Linked DNA regions of Homo sapiens: region 2 is linked to region 1. The links come from fine-mapping of genetic effects on gene expression. Tissue or cell type: ovary. Region 1 holds a variant in brackets; the other region holds the start of a gene. All regions are shown on one strand. Distances are between the middles of the regions.

Region 1 (8,111 bases):
TAAAGAACTACCTGAGAGGTGGCTGGCAAGATGACCAAATAGGAAAAGCTCCAGTCTGCAGCTCCCAACTAGATCAAAGCAGAAGTCAGGTAATTTCTGTATTTCCAACTGAGGTACCTAGCTCATCATATTGGGACTGGTTAGACAGTGGGTGCAGCCCATGGAGGGCAAGCCAAAGCAGGGTGGGGCGTTGCCTCACGTGGGAAGTGCAAGGGGTCAGGGAACTCCTTCCCCTAGCCAAGGGAAGCTCTGAGGGACTGTGCCATGAGGAATGGTACATTCTGGCCCAGATACTAGGCTTTTCCCATGGTCTTTGCAACCTGCAGAACAGGAGATTCCCTCGAGTGGCTACACCACCAGGGCCCTGGGTTTCAAGCACGAAACTGGGAGACTGGGCAGACACTGAGCTAGCTACAGGAGTTTTTTTTAATACCCCAGTGGCGCCTGGAATGCCAGTTAGACAGAACCATTCACTCCCCTAGAAAGAGGGCTGAAGCCAGGGAGCCAAGTGGTCTAGCTCAGCAGATCCCACACTCACAGATCCCAGCAAGCTAAAATCTACTGGCTTGAAATTCTTGCTGCCAGCAGAGCAGTCTGAAGTTGACCTGGGATGCTTGAGCTTGGTAGGGGGAGGGGTGTCTGCCTTTACTGGGGCTGGTATAGATGGTTTTCCCCTCACAGTGTAAACAAAGCCACCTGGAAGTTTGAACTGGGCAGAGCCCACCGCAGCTTGGCAAAGCTGCTGCAGCCAGACTGCCTCTCTAGATTCCTTCTTTCTGGGCAGGGCATCTCTGAAAGAAAGACAGCGGCCCCAGTCAGGGGCTTATAGATAAAACTCCCATCTCCCTGAGACAGAGCACCTGGGGGAAGGGGCAGCAGTGAGTGCCGCTTCAGCAGACTTAAACACTCCTGCTTCTCAGCTCTGAAGAGAGCAGTGGATCTCCCAGCACAGAGTTTGAGCTCTGCTAAGGGACAGACTGCCTCCTCAAGTGGGTCCCTGATCCCCATGCCTCCTGACTGGGAGACACCTCCCAGTAGGGGTCAACAGACACCTCATACAGGAGAGCTCCGACTGGCATCTGGTGGGTGCCCCTCTGGGACAAAGCTTCCAGAGGAAGGTACAAGCAGGAATCTTTGCTGTTCTGCAGTCTCCGCTGGTGATACCCAGGCAAACAGGGTGTGGAGTGGACCTTGAGCAAACTCCAGCTGACCTGCAGCTGAGGGGCCTGACTGTTAGAAGAAAAACTAACAAACAGAAAGGAATAACATCAACATCAACAAAAAGGATGTCCACAGCCAAACCCCATCTGAAGGTCACCAACATCAAAGACCAAAGGTAGGTAAATCCACGAAGATGAGGGAAAATCCAGCACAAAAGGATGAAAATTGCAAAAACCAGAATGCCTCTTCTCCTCCAAAGGATCACAACTCCTCACCAACAAGGGAACAAAACTGGAGAACAAGTTTGACGAATTGACATAGTAGGCTTCAGAAGGTGGGTAATAACAAACTTCTCTGAGCTAAAGGAGCATATTCTAACCCAATGCAAGGAAGCTAAGAACCTTGCAAAAAGGTTAGAGGAATTGCTAACTAGAATAACCAATTTAGAGAAGAACATAAATGACCTGATGGAGCTGAAAAACACAGCACAAGCACTTCATGAAGCATACACAAGAAACAATAGCTGAATCAGTCAAGCAAAAGAAAGGATATCAGAGATTGAAGATCAACTTAATGAAAGAAAGCGTGAAAACAAGATCAGAGGAAAAAGAATAAAAAGGCACAAACAAAGCCTCCAAGAAATATGAGACTATGTGAAAAGACCAAACCTACGTTTGATTGGTGTACCTGAAAGTGACGGGGAAGATGGAACCAAGTTGGAAAACACTCTTCAGGATATTATCCAGAAGAACTTCCCCTACCTAGCAAGACAGGCCAACATTCAAATTCAGGAAATACAGAGAACACCACAAAGATACTCCTCAAGAAAAACAACCCAAAGACACATAATCATCAAATTCACCAAGGTTGAAATGAAGGAAAAAATGTTAAGGGCAGCCAGAGAGAAAGGTCAGGTTACACACAAAGGGAAGCCCAATAGACTAACAGCAGATCTCTCTGCAGAAACCCTACAAGCCAGAAGAGAGTGGGGGCCAATATTCAACATTCTTAAAGAAAATAATTTTCAACCCAGAATTTCATATCCAGCCAAACTAAGCGTCATAAGCAAAGGAGAAATACAATCCTTTACAGACAAGCAAATGCTGAGAGATTTTTTTCACCACCTGGCCTGCCTTACAAGAGCTCCTGAAAGAAGCACTAAATATGGAAAGGAAAAACCGGTACCAGCCACTGCAAAAACATATCAAATTGTAAAAAACATTGAAAGGATGAAGAAACTGCATCAACTAATGAGCAAAATAACCAGCTAGCATCATAATGACAGGATCAAATTCACACATAACAATATTAATGTTAAAAGTAAATGGGCTAAATGCCCCAATTAAAAGACACAGGCTGGCAAATTGGACAGAGTCAAGACCCATCGATGTGCTGTATTCAGGAGACCCATCTCACATGAAAAGACACAGATAGGCTCAAAATAAAGGGATGGAGGGAAATTTACCAAGCAAATGGAAAGTAAAAAAAAAGCAGGGGTTGCAATCCTAGTCTCTGATAAAAGGACTTTAAACAAACAAAGATCAAAAAAGACAAAGAACGGCACACATAATGTTAAAGGAATCAATGCAACAAGAAGAGCTAACTATCCTAAATATATATGCACCCAATACAGGGGCACCCAGATTCATAAAGCAAGTTCTTAGAGACCTACAAAGAAACTTAGACTCCCACACAATAGTTGTGGGAGACTTTAACACCCCCTGTCAATATTAGACAGATCAATGAGACAGAAAATTAACAAAGATATTCAGGACTTGAACTCAGCTCTGGACCAAGGAGACCTAATAGACACCTACAGAACTCTCCACCCCAAATCAACAGAATATACATTTTTCTCAGCACCACATTGCACTTATTCTAAAATTGATCACATAATTGGAAGTAAAACACTCCTCAGCAAATTCAAAAGAATGGAAGTCATAACAAACTGTCTCTCAGACCACAGTGCAACCAAATTAGAACTCAGGATTAAGAAACTCACTCAAAACTGCACAACTACATGGAAACTGAACAACCTGCTGCTAAGTGACTACTGGGTAAATAACAAAATTAAGGCAGAAATAAAGAAGTTCTTTGAAACCAGTGAGAACAAAGACACAACATACCAGAATCTCTGGGACTCAGTTAAAGCAGTGTTTAGAGGGAAATTTATAGCACCAAATGCCCATGGGAGAAACTGGGAAATATCTAAAATCAACACCCTAACATCACAATTAAAAGAACTAGAGAAGCAAGAGCAAACAAATTCGAAAACTAGCAGAAGACAAGAAATAACTAAGATGAGCGCAGAACTGAAGGAGATAGAGACACGAAAAACCCTTCAAAAAATCAATGAATCCAGAAGCTGGTTTTTTGAAAAGATTAACAAAATTGACCACTAGCCAGACTAATAAAGAAGAAAAGAGAGAAGAATCAAATAGACACAATAAAAAAAGATAAAGGGGAGATCACAATTGATCTCACAGAAATACAAACTACCATCAGAGAATACTATAAACACCTCTATGCAAATAAACTAGAAAATCTATAAGAAATTGATAAATTCCTGGACACATACAACCTCCCAATACTAAAGCAGGAAGAAGTCAAATCCTTGCATAGACCAATAACAAGTTCTGAAATTGAGGCAGTAATTAATAGCCTACCAATCAAAAAAGCCAAGGAACAGACGGATTCACAGCCGAATTCTACCACATATAAAAAGAGTTGCTTCTGAAAGTATTCCAAACTGAAATTATTCCTTCTGAAACTATTCCAAACAATGGAAAAAGAAAGACTCATTCCTAACTCATTTTATGAGGCCACCATTATTCTGATACCAAAACCCAGCAGAGACACAACAAAAAAAGAAAATTTCAGGCCAATATCCCTGATGAACGTTGATGTGAAAATCCTCAAAAAACAACAACAAAAAATACTGGCAAACCGAATCCAGCAGCACATCAAAAAGCTTATCCACCACAATCAAGTTGGCTTCATCCTTGGGATGCAAGGCTGGTTCAACATATGCAAATCAATAAACGTAATCTATCACATAAACAGAATCAATGACAAAAACCACATGATTATCTCAATAGATGCAGAAAAGGCCTTCAATAAAATTCAACACCTCTTCATGCTAAAAACTCCCAATAACCTAGGTATTGATGGAACATATCTCAAATTAATAAGAGCTATTTATGACAAACCCATAGCCAATATCACACTGAATGGACAAAAGCTGAAAGTATTCCTTTTGAGAACTGGTACAAGACAAGGATGCCCTCTCTCACCACTCCTATTCAACATAGTACTGGAAGTTCTGGCCAGGGCAATCAGGCAAGAGAAAGAAATAAAGGGTATTCAAATAGGAAGAGAGGAAGTCAAATTGTCACTGTTTGCAGATGACATGATTGTATATTTAGACAACCCCATTGTCTCAGCCCAAAATCTCATTAAGCTGATGAGCAACTTCAGCAAAGTCTCAGGATACAAAATCAATGTGCAAAAATCACAAG[C/T]ATTCCTATATGCCAATAATAGACAAGCAGAGAGCCAAATCACGAGTGAACTTCCATTCACAATTGCTACAAAGAGAATAAAATACCTTGGAATACAACTTACAAGGGATGTGAAGGAACTCTTCAAGGAGAACTACAAACCACTGCTCAATGAAATAAGAGAGGACACAAACAAATGGAAAGACATTCCATGCTCATGGATAAGAAGAATCAATATCATGAAAATGGCCATACTGGCCAAAGTAATTTATAGATTCTATGCTATCCCCATCAAGCTACCATTGATTTTCTTCACAGAATTATTAAAAACTACTTTAAATTTCATATGAAACCAAAAAAGAGCCCATATATCCAAGACAATTCTAAGCAAAAAAGAACAAAGCTGGAGGTATCATCCTACCTGACGTCAAACTATACTACAAAACAAGTTTGGCTATAGTAACCAAAACAGCATGGTACTGGTACCAAAACAGATATATAGACCAATGGAACAGAACAGAGGCCTCAGAAATAATGCCACACATCTACAACCATCTGATCTTTTGTCTGATCAAACCTGAAAAAAACAATCAATGGGGAAAGGATTCTCTATTTAATAAATGGTGCTGGGAAAACTGGCTAGCCATATGCAGAAAACTGAAACTGGACCCCTTTCTTACACCTTATGTAAAAATTAGCACAAGATGGATTAAACACCTAAATGTAAGACCTAAAACCATAAAAACCCTAGAAGAAAACCTAGGCAATACCATTCAGGACATAGGCATGGGCAAGACTTCATGACTAAAACACCAAAAGCAATGGCAACAAAAGCCAAAATTGACAAATGCAATCTAAGTAAACTAAAGAGCTTCTGCACAGCAAGAGAAACTATCATCAGAGTGAACAGATAACTTACAGAATGGGAGAAAATTTTGCAATCTATCCATCTGAAAAAGGGCTAATATCCAGAATCTACAAGAAACTTAAACAAATTTACAGGAGAAAAACACCCCCCTCCAAAATTGGGCAAAGGATATGAACAGACACTTCTCAAAAGAAGACATTTATGTGGCCAACAAACATATGAAAAAAAGCTCATCATCACTGATCATTAGAAAAATGCAAATCAAAACCACAATGAGATACCATCTCACTCCAGTTAGAATGACAATCATCAAAAAGGAAACAACAGATGCTGGAGTAGATGTGGAGAAATAGGAACGCTTTTACACTGTTTGTGGGAGTGTAAATTAGTTCAGCCATTGTGGAAGACAGTATGGTGATTCCTCAAGGATCTAGAACCAGAAATACCATTTGACCCAGCAATCCCATTACTGGGTATATACCCAAAGGATTATAAATCATTCTACTATAAAACACGTGCACATGTATGTTTATTGCAGCACTATTCACAATAGCAAAGACTTGGAACCAACCCAAATGCCCATCAATGACAGACTGGATAAATAAAATGTGGCACATATACACCATGGAATACTATGCAGCCATAATAAAGAATGAGTTAATGTCCTTTGCAGGGACGTGGATGAAGCTGGAAGCCATCATTCTCAGCATACTAACACAGGAACAGAAAATCGAACACCACATGTTCTCTCTCATAAGTGGGAGTTAAACAATGAGAACACATGGACACAGGGAGGGGAATATCACACACTGGGGACTATCAGGGGGTGGGGGGCTACGGGAGGGATAGCATTAGGAGAAATACCTAATGTCGTTACAGGTTGATGGGTGCAGCAAACCATCATGGCACGTGTATACTTGCATAACAAACCTGCATGTTCTGCACATCTATCCCAGAACTTAAAGTATATATATATCCACCATGGCAAGGTATGCTTGCTTCCCCTTCACTTTCCTCCAGATTATAAGTTTCCTGAGGCCTCTCAGCCATGCTTCCAGTATATCTTGCAGAACTGTGTGTCAATTAAGCCTCTTTTCTTTATGAATTATCCAATCTCAGGTAGTTCTTTCTTTAAATATATATATATAAAGATATATATAAATATAAATATATATTATATATTATATATAAAGATATATATAAATATAAATATATATTATATATTATATATAAAGATATATATAAATATAAATATATAATACACATATAAATATATATAATATATATAAATATACATAATTTATGCATATATTTAAAGAAATATATAAATATATATATTTAAAGTATATATAATATATATGTATATGTATATGTATATAATATATATTTATATTTTTATATATATAATATATATTTATATTTTTTATATATAATATATATATATATTTATATATATATATTTAAAGAAAGAACTACCTGAGATTAGATAATTCATAAAGAAAAGAGGCTTAATTGACACACAGTTCTGCAAGACATACTGGAAGCATGGCTGAGAGGCCTCAGGAAACTTATAATCTGGAGGAAAGTGAAGGGGAAGCAAGCATACCTTACCATGGTGGATCAAGAGAGAGAAAGAGAAGGGGGACGTACTCTACACTGTTAAACAACCAGATCTCATGAGAACTCTATCATGAGACAGTACTGGGGGATAATGCTAAACCATTAGAAACCACTCCCATAATTCATTCAGCTCCCACCAGGTTCCTACCCCAACACTGGGGATTATAATTCAACATGAGATTTAGATGGAGACACAGAACCAACCATATCATTTTGCCCCTGGCCCCTCCCAAATCTCATGTTTTTCTCACATTTCAAAACACTAATGCCTTTCTAATTGTCACCCAAAGTCTTAACTCATTCCAGCATTAACTCCAAAGTCCAAGTTAAAAGTCCCTGAGACAAGGCAAGCTGCTTCCACCTGTGAGTCTGTGAAATCCAAAACAAGTTTGTTACTTCCCAGATACAACAGGGGTACAGGCATTGGGTAAATGCTCCCATTCCAAAAAAGAGATATTGGCCAAAATAAAGGGTCTACAGGCCCCATGCAGTTCCAAAACCCAACAAGGCAGTCATTATATCTTAAAGCTCTAAAATAATCTCCTTTGAATCCATGTCTCACATCCAGGCCACACTGGTGCAAGGGGTAGCCTCCCACTGCCATGGGCAGCTTTTGGGCAGCCATGGGCTCTGGAAGGTATGCCCCTGAAGCTGCTTTCACAGGCTGGTATTGAGTGACTGTGACTTTTCCAGGTACACGGAGCAAGCAGTCTGTGGATCTACCATTCTGAGGTCTGGAGGATGGTGGCTGTCTTTTCACAGCTCCACTAGGCAGTGCACCAGTGGGGACTGTGCAGGCTTCAACTTCACATTTCCCCTCTGCACTGCCCTAGTAGAGGTTCTCCACGAGGGCTCTGCCCCAGCAGCAGACTTCCACATAGACATCCAGGCATTTCCTTACATCCTCTGAAGTCTAGGTGGAGGCTCCCAAACCTCAACTCTTGTCTTCTCTGCACCTGCAGGCC
Region 2 (8,111 bases), 660 kb after region 1:
CTAAAAAGGGTAAGTTTTATAGTATGTAAATTATACCTCAAGAAAGTGCTCATAGAAAGACAGAGAAGGGAATCTTGAGGGGAAACAGAAGAGGCTTGGTTGAGAGGATGGATACAGGAGTCATAATGTGCAAATAATAAAAGTTTCTGAAAGAAAGATGACTACTAAACTAATAACATTATAAAGTCCCTCAAGCTAAAGAAATTTCTCCAAGCTTGAGTCTGCAGGTGAAAACTGCCTATAAAATTATGGGTTACAAGGGTGAGAAAAGATATCTGGCAAATGCCATGAACTCAAGAATAAAGAGAAAAACCTTAGATGCTTCCAGAAAAAAACAAGTTACTTAGGAAAAAAAAAAAAGAGAGGTAGGCATAGGCCTTTATATCCACAACATGGCAAAAGAAGATAGTGAAAGAGCATTCATAAATTTTTGAGAGAAAAGGACTGCCACCCAAGAATTCTATCCCAACAAAGAGTAAAAGGAAAGTATTTTGGCGTATGTTATCACTCATTTATCCAATTGAGAGAAACGGCCAAAAAAAATAAATGAATAACAACTGAATCATAGTAGAGATAGAGGAGGAAAAGAGAAGACCTTATGACATATGTAATTAAATCTAACTAGGGAATAGTAAAGAAATTGGACAGAGATATATGATAAAAAAAAATTCAGTGCATTAGAATTAAAATAAAGCATCTAAACAAAAGGAATATTAAAATCAGACCAGTGTACAGTAGTATCTTTATCTGCAGTTTCATCTCCGCAGTTTCAGTTACCCTTGGTCAATCATGGTTCAAAATATTAAAAGGGAAATTCCAGAAACAAACAATTGGTAAGTTTTAAACTGTGTACTGTCTGAGTAGTGTGAAGAAATTTCTCACCATCCTGCTCCATCCCACCCAAGACATAAATCATCACTTTGTCCAGCACATCCACCACTTTGTCCAGCACATCCACCACTTTGTCCAGCATATCCACACTGTGTATACTACCTGACCGTTAGCCATCAACATCATCTGCTCCTGATATCCAATCATCAACATCATCGTGGCTTGATGATCCAGAATCACCAGAAGCAGATGCTCCTCCTTCTGAAGTATTGTCAGAAGGTTAATAGTAGCCTAACACTACATCACAACACCTACATTCTTCACCTCACTCGCTCTCATCACATAGACATTTTATCTCTCACATCATCGCAGGAGGAAGGGTACAATATAATATTTTGAGAGCGAGAGAGACCACTTTCACAAAACTTTTATTACTTTATTACTTCTATTGTTATAATTGTTCTATTTTATTATTAATTATTGTTAATCTCTTACTGTGCCTAATTTATAAATTACACTTTATCACAGGTATTTATGTATAGGAAAAAACATAGTATTAATATAGAAAGGGTTCAGTACTATCCATGGTTTTAGGCATCCACTGGGAGTCCTGGAATGTATCCCCTGGGATAAGGGGAGATGCCTGTACAAGGAAACTGCAAGTGACTATTTCCAACAGCTTTTTTGTTTGTTAGTTTTTACCTGGTTTGCAAGATGAGAGTGACCAAACAGCTTGTGACCCAATTTCCCGTACTGTTCCAGTCCTTTCCAACTGCTTGGGGTCAGCACCAGGAGGTGTCTTGTTTGGTGTAGTCATTTTTAAAATATTCTATGTAGAAAACAAGAATGCACACATTGTATCAGGAACTGGGCATCTTTCTACAAAAGTTTTTTACCAAGAAAAATTTAATGGAACTCATATACCCTGACATTAATCATTTATTCTGAAGAATGCAGTTAATATAATTAAATCACTGTAATTTAAATCTTAGGGGCTGGGCATGGTGGCTCACACCTGTAATCCCAACACTTTGGGAGGCTGAGACAGGAGGATCATGTGAGCCCAGGAGTTCAAGACCAGCCTGGACAACATGGCAAGACCCCATCTCTATTTTTAAATAAATAAAAATCTTAGGAATTCAGGTTTTGTTTCATATGACCAGATATGCAAAGCAGTGAGCTATAGTAGTCAAAAGAGCACAGAATCAAAGTTTTGGCTTCAGTATCTCCTTTAATCAGCCTAGACTTTGAGTAGGTCTGGGCTTTATTTCCTCTCCTGTTAAAGAGGTTCACTTGATGATTTTTACTTCTACAATGCTATGCAGTTCTATAATTCTGTGCCTGAAAATTCAAATGACTTTTAGCCCTAGAAAAGTCAGACTGAAATACTTTTATTCTAGGAATATATAAATATTGATCCTCATTTTATTTACTTAATTCCTTTTTTTTTAGAGACAGGATCTAGCTATGTTACCCAGGCTGGTCTTGAACACCTTGCTTCAAGCGATCCTCCCACCTCAGCCTCCCAAGTAGCTGGGATTACAGGTGTGATCCCATCACCCCACTAAGATCCTCATTTTAAATATTCATTGAGTGATGCAGAGAACAGTCATACCTGCCCTCTAGCTGTCAAAAGTTTTATTTAAGACCCAGCCCGGTGGCTCACACCTGTAATCCCAGCAGTTTGGGAGGCCAAGGCAGGTGGATTGCTTGAGCCCAGGAGTTCGAGACCAGCCTGGAATATGGTGAAACCCTGTCTCTAAAAAAATTCCAAAAAATCAGCCTGGTGTGGCGGCACACACCTGTAGTCCCAGGGGGGCTGAGACAGGAGGATCACCTGAACTGGGAGGCGGAGGTTGCAGTGAGCCGAGATCGTGCTACTGCACTCCAGCCTGCGTAACAGAGCAAGACACTGTCCCAAAAAGCACAAAAATAAGAAAAAAATGTTAAAAGTTCACTTACATATGCTCTTACCATAGAAGATAAGGTCAGGAAAATGGCTTCAAGATTTTGAAGTGAATAACTGGCCCATTCTAAAAAGGTTGACCTCATCTTTCACATCTTTTGTTAATTTTACTAAGTCTATTCATATGTGAAAAAACACTTCAATACTGGATCGTGAACAATATGTAAAACTGCTTTGGTAGCGCAGTTACTGCTACTGAACATTGTTATATATGCTATTCAAAATAGGTGCAATAGTTCTGCATACCGTTTCCTTGACACCTCCCATTGTATCCGAAGTTGTTCTTTAATCGGCACACAAGCACTTGATACTTACTAAATAACGGCAGACACAACGGACTGTAAACTTTGGCAAGGCCTGAGGCTTAAACGCTCAATAAGTAATTTACTGAATGAATAAACAGATGAATAGGTTCAGTTATGAACTAGTTGTCACTTGCCTGCAAGTTAGGTGAGATCTAGGGCGAGACTATTCAACCTGCAACCATCATTACTAACTGAATGTCCTGTTACCTAAAAAAAGATAGAAATAAAGCCCATCTTTAGGGCAGAATTCAACTGCCGGACTTGGGACTGGACGCCACCAAGTGGATAAAATATGGAGCTCGGAAAAGATTGGATTCCCGGCCCTGAACTGACCACACAGTTGAGAGGAAGTTGAGGCCTAGAAGAGCGCGCAACAGTAAGCCGTGTCGGCACCAGACTCTGTTGGTCCTACTGACACCTCCAGCGTTAGAATGACTAAGGCTCCACTCCTGACCCACCGGCCTTGAGGAAAGCGCAAACGTAAAAAAAGATTGAAACCGGAGAGGCGAATGCATCTGTTTACGCTAGGACCACGCTCGACGTCGGAGAAAAGCCCACACACTCACAGTTTCCAGACCTGGCTGCTTGCCGAAACTCAGATTCTCGGCACCTCCAGCAGCTGGCTTCGCCAACGGCGTTGAACAAGGGTCGCAGCTCAATGACGTCATATCTCCCTACCTACCTCCAGGGTTCCGCCTCACGCTCTATGTCGCGCGCGCGCACTACGTCCTATGGCTTGCGCGTGCGGCGGCTGGGCACCGCCATTTTGGCCGGTGGCCGTGAGAACACGCTGTGTGGCTGAAAAGTGAAGGCAAGAGCTGATTTGGCCTCTGTGCTCCCCTCCGCAAGGGGATCGTTTTCTCCAGGTACGTGAATAGCCCGGAGAGGTTTGGCCGTTAGCTGCCATCTGCCAGGTTGGAAAGAATGTAGGGACGTTCTCCGAGAGCCTTTGGTTAGGCCTTAGGTGGCGGAGACAGCAGCAGCGCGTGGCAGCGGTTCCTGCGGGACAGCTGGAACTGATGGAGCGCGGGCGACGCCGAGAGCTTGGGGGCGCCTCGGTCTTCCCCTCCAGCCGACCCGGCTGTCGCCGCTGTTGCCTGCCACACCCGCGAGGGACTTCGAGAATGGACCTAGATGCCGTAGTCTCCACTCCCCCTTTACCCCACTCCCGCCCTGAAGCTAAACCTGCTGGAGAGGAAGGCACCTTTAGAACTTACAGCACTCTCTAGTACCCCCACACTCCTCCAGCACCCAAAATGGATATATTGTCACATGTGCATATTTGGTTGTGGGAAGTCGTGGCTTCCACGTTTTGTTGAGTGGAATGAGTCATGGCATCTTGCCGCCATGAAGTCGAATACTCGCTGTCCACTCCCAGGCTTTATAGAAATGATGCCCACATGTCACTCTGCTTTTCTCAGAACAGCGTGTACGCAGCTATGACTGGGGTTGTCCCAAGTAGTTTCCCAGTAGAAATCCTATAGTTTTTTTGGTACGCTTTTGTAGCACTAGGCACTTTCTCCCCTTACCCGTTTTTCCTTTTATTGTATCTAATACTCATTGAGATCAAGGTTGATGTCTTTACTCAGAATACCTTTATTATCTCTTCAGGGCTTCGTACATTGTAGGCATTTAATACGTATTGTGAATGAATGACAGCCAAAGCCGAATTCCCACCTCCCATTAACTACATAAGCTTATTTTCTCTTTTTTGATGGTAAAAATCTATAAGAGGAAGAACTGTCCAAATAACATGTTTTATTTTTTTACTCTTTCCCAACAGGACTGCTAACTAGTCATTTATGATAGTGGCATTTATGTTGCAGTAGTTTGTCCCATATTCTGAGAATATTCATTGTATACCAGCCACCTGACACTAATACTTTGTTAGTGTAACCAAAGGCTCAGAACCTGTATTTGAACCAAAAGCTGTTTGGGGTTTGTGAGCTTTTTGAGAACTTAGTTCTCCCCTATTTTAAAAAAGGGAGTTTTTTTGTTTGTTTGTTTGTTGGAAGAGCATCTAACAATTGGGAGAGAGGGGGAGAAAACAATATTAAGTTAGAGTTCTTCTAAATGTCTTAAACTTAAAACTCTTTGAAATCAGAGCCGTGTACCACTCCTAACTTCTACGTGTTTTGTAAGACTAATAAACTACAATAAGCATGGGTTAGACTATTTCATGTGATACTAAACATCATTAGTTAACAGCAGTCTTTGAAATGCTTTTACACAGCGTTACAATTATTTTGGCTTTAGACTGTAAATGCTTCTAAGTATTCCTCACTTCCTTTTTTCCTCTCAGCTGTAAGAATGACACTGAGGGTCATTGTTCTAGTGTCAATTTTGAACACTTTTGTCTTCGAATCTGAAATATCCGCAAATCCTTCTTTGTTTGCAGGAGCCTGTTAACTATAATCTTCCTCTCCAAGCTTTACTGTGCCTAGGTTTTCTATTGAAAAACAAGTAGGGAATCCCCTTGCCCCAATTATTGAAACTGATACAGAAATTGAATTAAAAGTGTTCACACAGTTAATTAACAGTTCTACAAAGAATCCATGTTCATTTTTCTTAAATGCATTACAATTTATCACTATTTTTATATAAATCAGTTTATTAACCACTTCTGGTATGTTTTTATTCTACTGTAAAAATCAAGCCAGGGTAGTGACATGCACCTATAGTCCCAGCTATTCGGGAGGCTAAAGCAAGAGGATCCCTTGAGCCCAGGAGTCCCAGTCTGTAGTGTCCTGTGATCACTGCCCTCAGCCAGGACACCATAGCAAGATCCCTGTGTCTTTTTAAAAAATTGTCTTTTACAGTCTTTTGGTTTTTAAAATAGTTTGAAAAATTAAATATTTTAGTAGTTTAACAGAAATAAAGTTTAAGCAATTTCGTGGTGATTTATCCCCTGGAGGGGAATTCATTATGCTCTTTCACTGAGTAATTGTAGAAAGGCATTCAGTATTTAAATTAGAATGCATGGTGTCCAGTTTTAATAGCTTGCTGAAGAATCTTCATTTCCTAGGAAGTTGTCATTTCCCGAATAATAGCTTTTTTGTGACAATTCAAGCCATCTAATTTCTTCCTCTTCTAATCTTTACAAGACCTGGACCAGTTTTTAGAGGAATAGAGTCAACCTGTTTATTGGAATAACCCTGTACTTATTACATGAACATTTAGTCTCCTTTTGAATGATTTTTTTTTTCAGTATGTAGTTTAGTGGACAACTGTCACTATAAAATATTGGTAACTTGCAAGATTTCTAAAGTTGTTATAACCTACAGGAAAATTATTTACTATATTTAAATTCATATTCTCATTCATTTAGCAGAAATGCTTGATCTCCTGTGTGCTAGGCACAGGTTCAGCCACTGGAATGAACAAAAATTCCTACCCTCATGATGGATGGAGTACATTCTACTTGGGGAGGGGAAAAATGTGTATGTGTTTGTAGAGAGACAATATACATACACACACCCACGATAGATGTGTGCATATACACCAGATATATATAAAAAAAATATATATATGGAATATATAGTATGTCATATAGTTGAGCTAGGGAGAAAAATAAAGCAAGAAAGAAGGATGAAGAGGCAGTTGGGTGTATTTTTCGGTAGTGTATATTGTGGTAGTGTAGTTACAAAAGGCTCACTGAGAAATAGTAAAGATTGAAAGGAGTAAGCCATGTAACTCTCTAGGGGGAATAGCATTACAGGCAGAAAGTGCCAAGATCTTGAAGCAAGAACATGCCTGGCATGTGCTAGGAACAACAAAGAGCCAATGTAGCTGGAGCCATACAAGAGCTAGAGTAGTTGGAGATGAGATCAGAAAGTTAACAGAGGCTGATCAATGCCTCATTGATTATTTTCAGGACTTTGGCATTTACTCAGATTGAGAATGAAGCCATTGCAGGATTTTAAATAGAGGAGTGACATGATCTAGCTTACTCTTTAAAAGGCTTCCTATGGTTCCTGTGTTGAGAATGAACTGTTGAGGGTTAGAGTAGAAAGAGGTGAGGGTAAAAGCAAAGAGATCTGTTAGGAAGCTATTTGAGTGATGCTGGTAAGAGATGATAGTGATAGCTTACACCAAACTCATGAGATCAGATTCTGGATGTTTTATAGCTTCAGTGGGATTTGCTGTTATTAGGTGGAAAAGAAAATGACTTCAAGGATTTGGGCCTGAGCAAATGGAAGACTGGAGTTGCCATCTAACAAAATGGGCAAGACTGCTGAAATTTTGGTGAGGATATCAGGAGCTTAGTTGGGAGATTCCTCTTAAGCCTTCCAGAGATGTTAGGTGGGCAGGAAGGGTTCAAGAGAGGTATGCTGACTAAAGATAGAAATTTGGAAATTTGCAGTATATAAATGGAATTTAAACCTGTGAGACCAGAATAGAACAACTTGGGGAATGAGTATATGTGGAAAAAAATGACCAAGTCTTAGAGCACTCTGCATTTAGAAGCCTGGGAGATGAAGATGAGTGACCAGGAAAACAGTAGAAAAACCAGATTAGTGTTGTATCCTAAAACCAAGTTAAGAAAGGGTTTTTATCTAGTAGGAAAAGTGTTTATTTGTGTCAGATGCAATTGATTGGTCAGGTGAATTAAGGTCTGATAACCATTTGTTTTAGCCATGTGAAGAACAATGATGGCTCGAAAAGTTTTGATTAAATGATGGGCTCTAGAGCCTAGAATGGATTCCAGAGAGCATGTAGCAAGAAATTTGAGACATTGAGTATAAGCAACTCTTTGAAGTAGTCTTGAAGAAGGAAAAATAAAACAATGGGAGACGATGGGGTCAGATAATAGAATGCCTGAATGCTGATAAGAATGAGCCAGTGGAGAGAATAATTGATGAAGTTAAAGACAGAAGGGAGAATTGTTGGGACATTCTTATGGAATGTCTTCTAGTGTACAAATGGTCTTAGCCAGGGAAATACATACAGTGTCATTGCTGGTTGGCATAAGGGTCCATTTGAGATGATGAATTTAAAGGGAGACTAGT

Which allele goes with the higher level. Positions count from the first base shown, and alleles are read on the strand shown. Sizes are in standard deviations (SD) of each study's normalised expression.
As copies of C replace T in region 1, the expression in ovary of the gene that starts at base 3,860 in region 2 goes up (moderate effect, 0.54 SD a copy in GTEx).

The links. PIP is the estimated chance that this variant, and not a neighbour inherited with it, causes the effect.
Region 2: ABCE1 starts here. The variant in region 1 is fine-mapped to the expression of ABCE1 in ovary (GTEx, PIP above 0.99).

Annotation. Positions count from the first base shown.
Region 1 is chr4:144,434,614-144,442,724 of GRCh38, forward strand. All of the region lies in intron 1 of LOC105377462 (a long non-coding RNA gene), which reads right to left. Among named protein-coding and RNA genes, the nearest start is that of HHIP-AS1, 210 kb to the right of the region's middle. The variant C/T (reference allele first, on the strand shown) is at 4,680.
Region 2 is chr4:145,094,452-145,102,562 of GRCh38, forward strand. It overlaps ABCE1 (ATP binding cassette subfamily E member 1), which reads left to right and starts at 3,860. Exons shown (of 18, transcript NM_002940.3): 1 at 3,860-3,968. ANAPC10 (anaphase promoting complex subunit 10) reads right to left here and starts at 3,745. Exons shown (of 5, transcript NM_001256706.2): 1 at 3,669-3,745; 2 at 1,534-1,660. The coding sequence starts at 1,648. RefSeq lists enhancers at 3,000-3,871, 3,119-4,318, 3,452-3,501, 3,582-3,841, 3,872-4,743 and 1 more.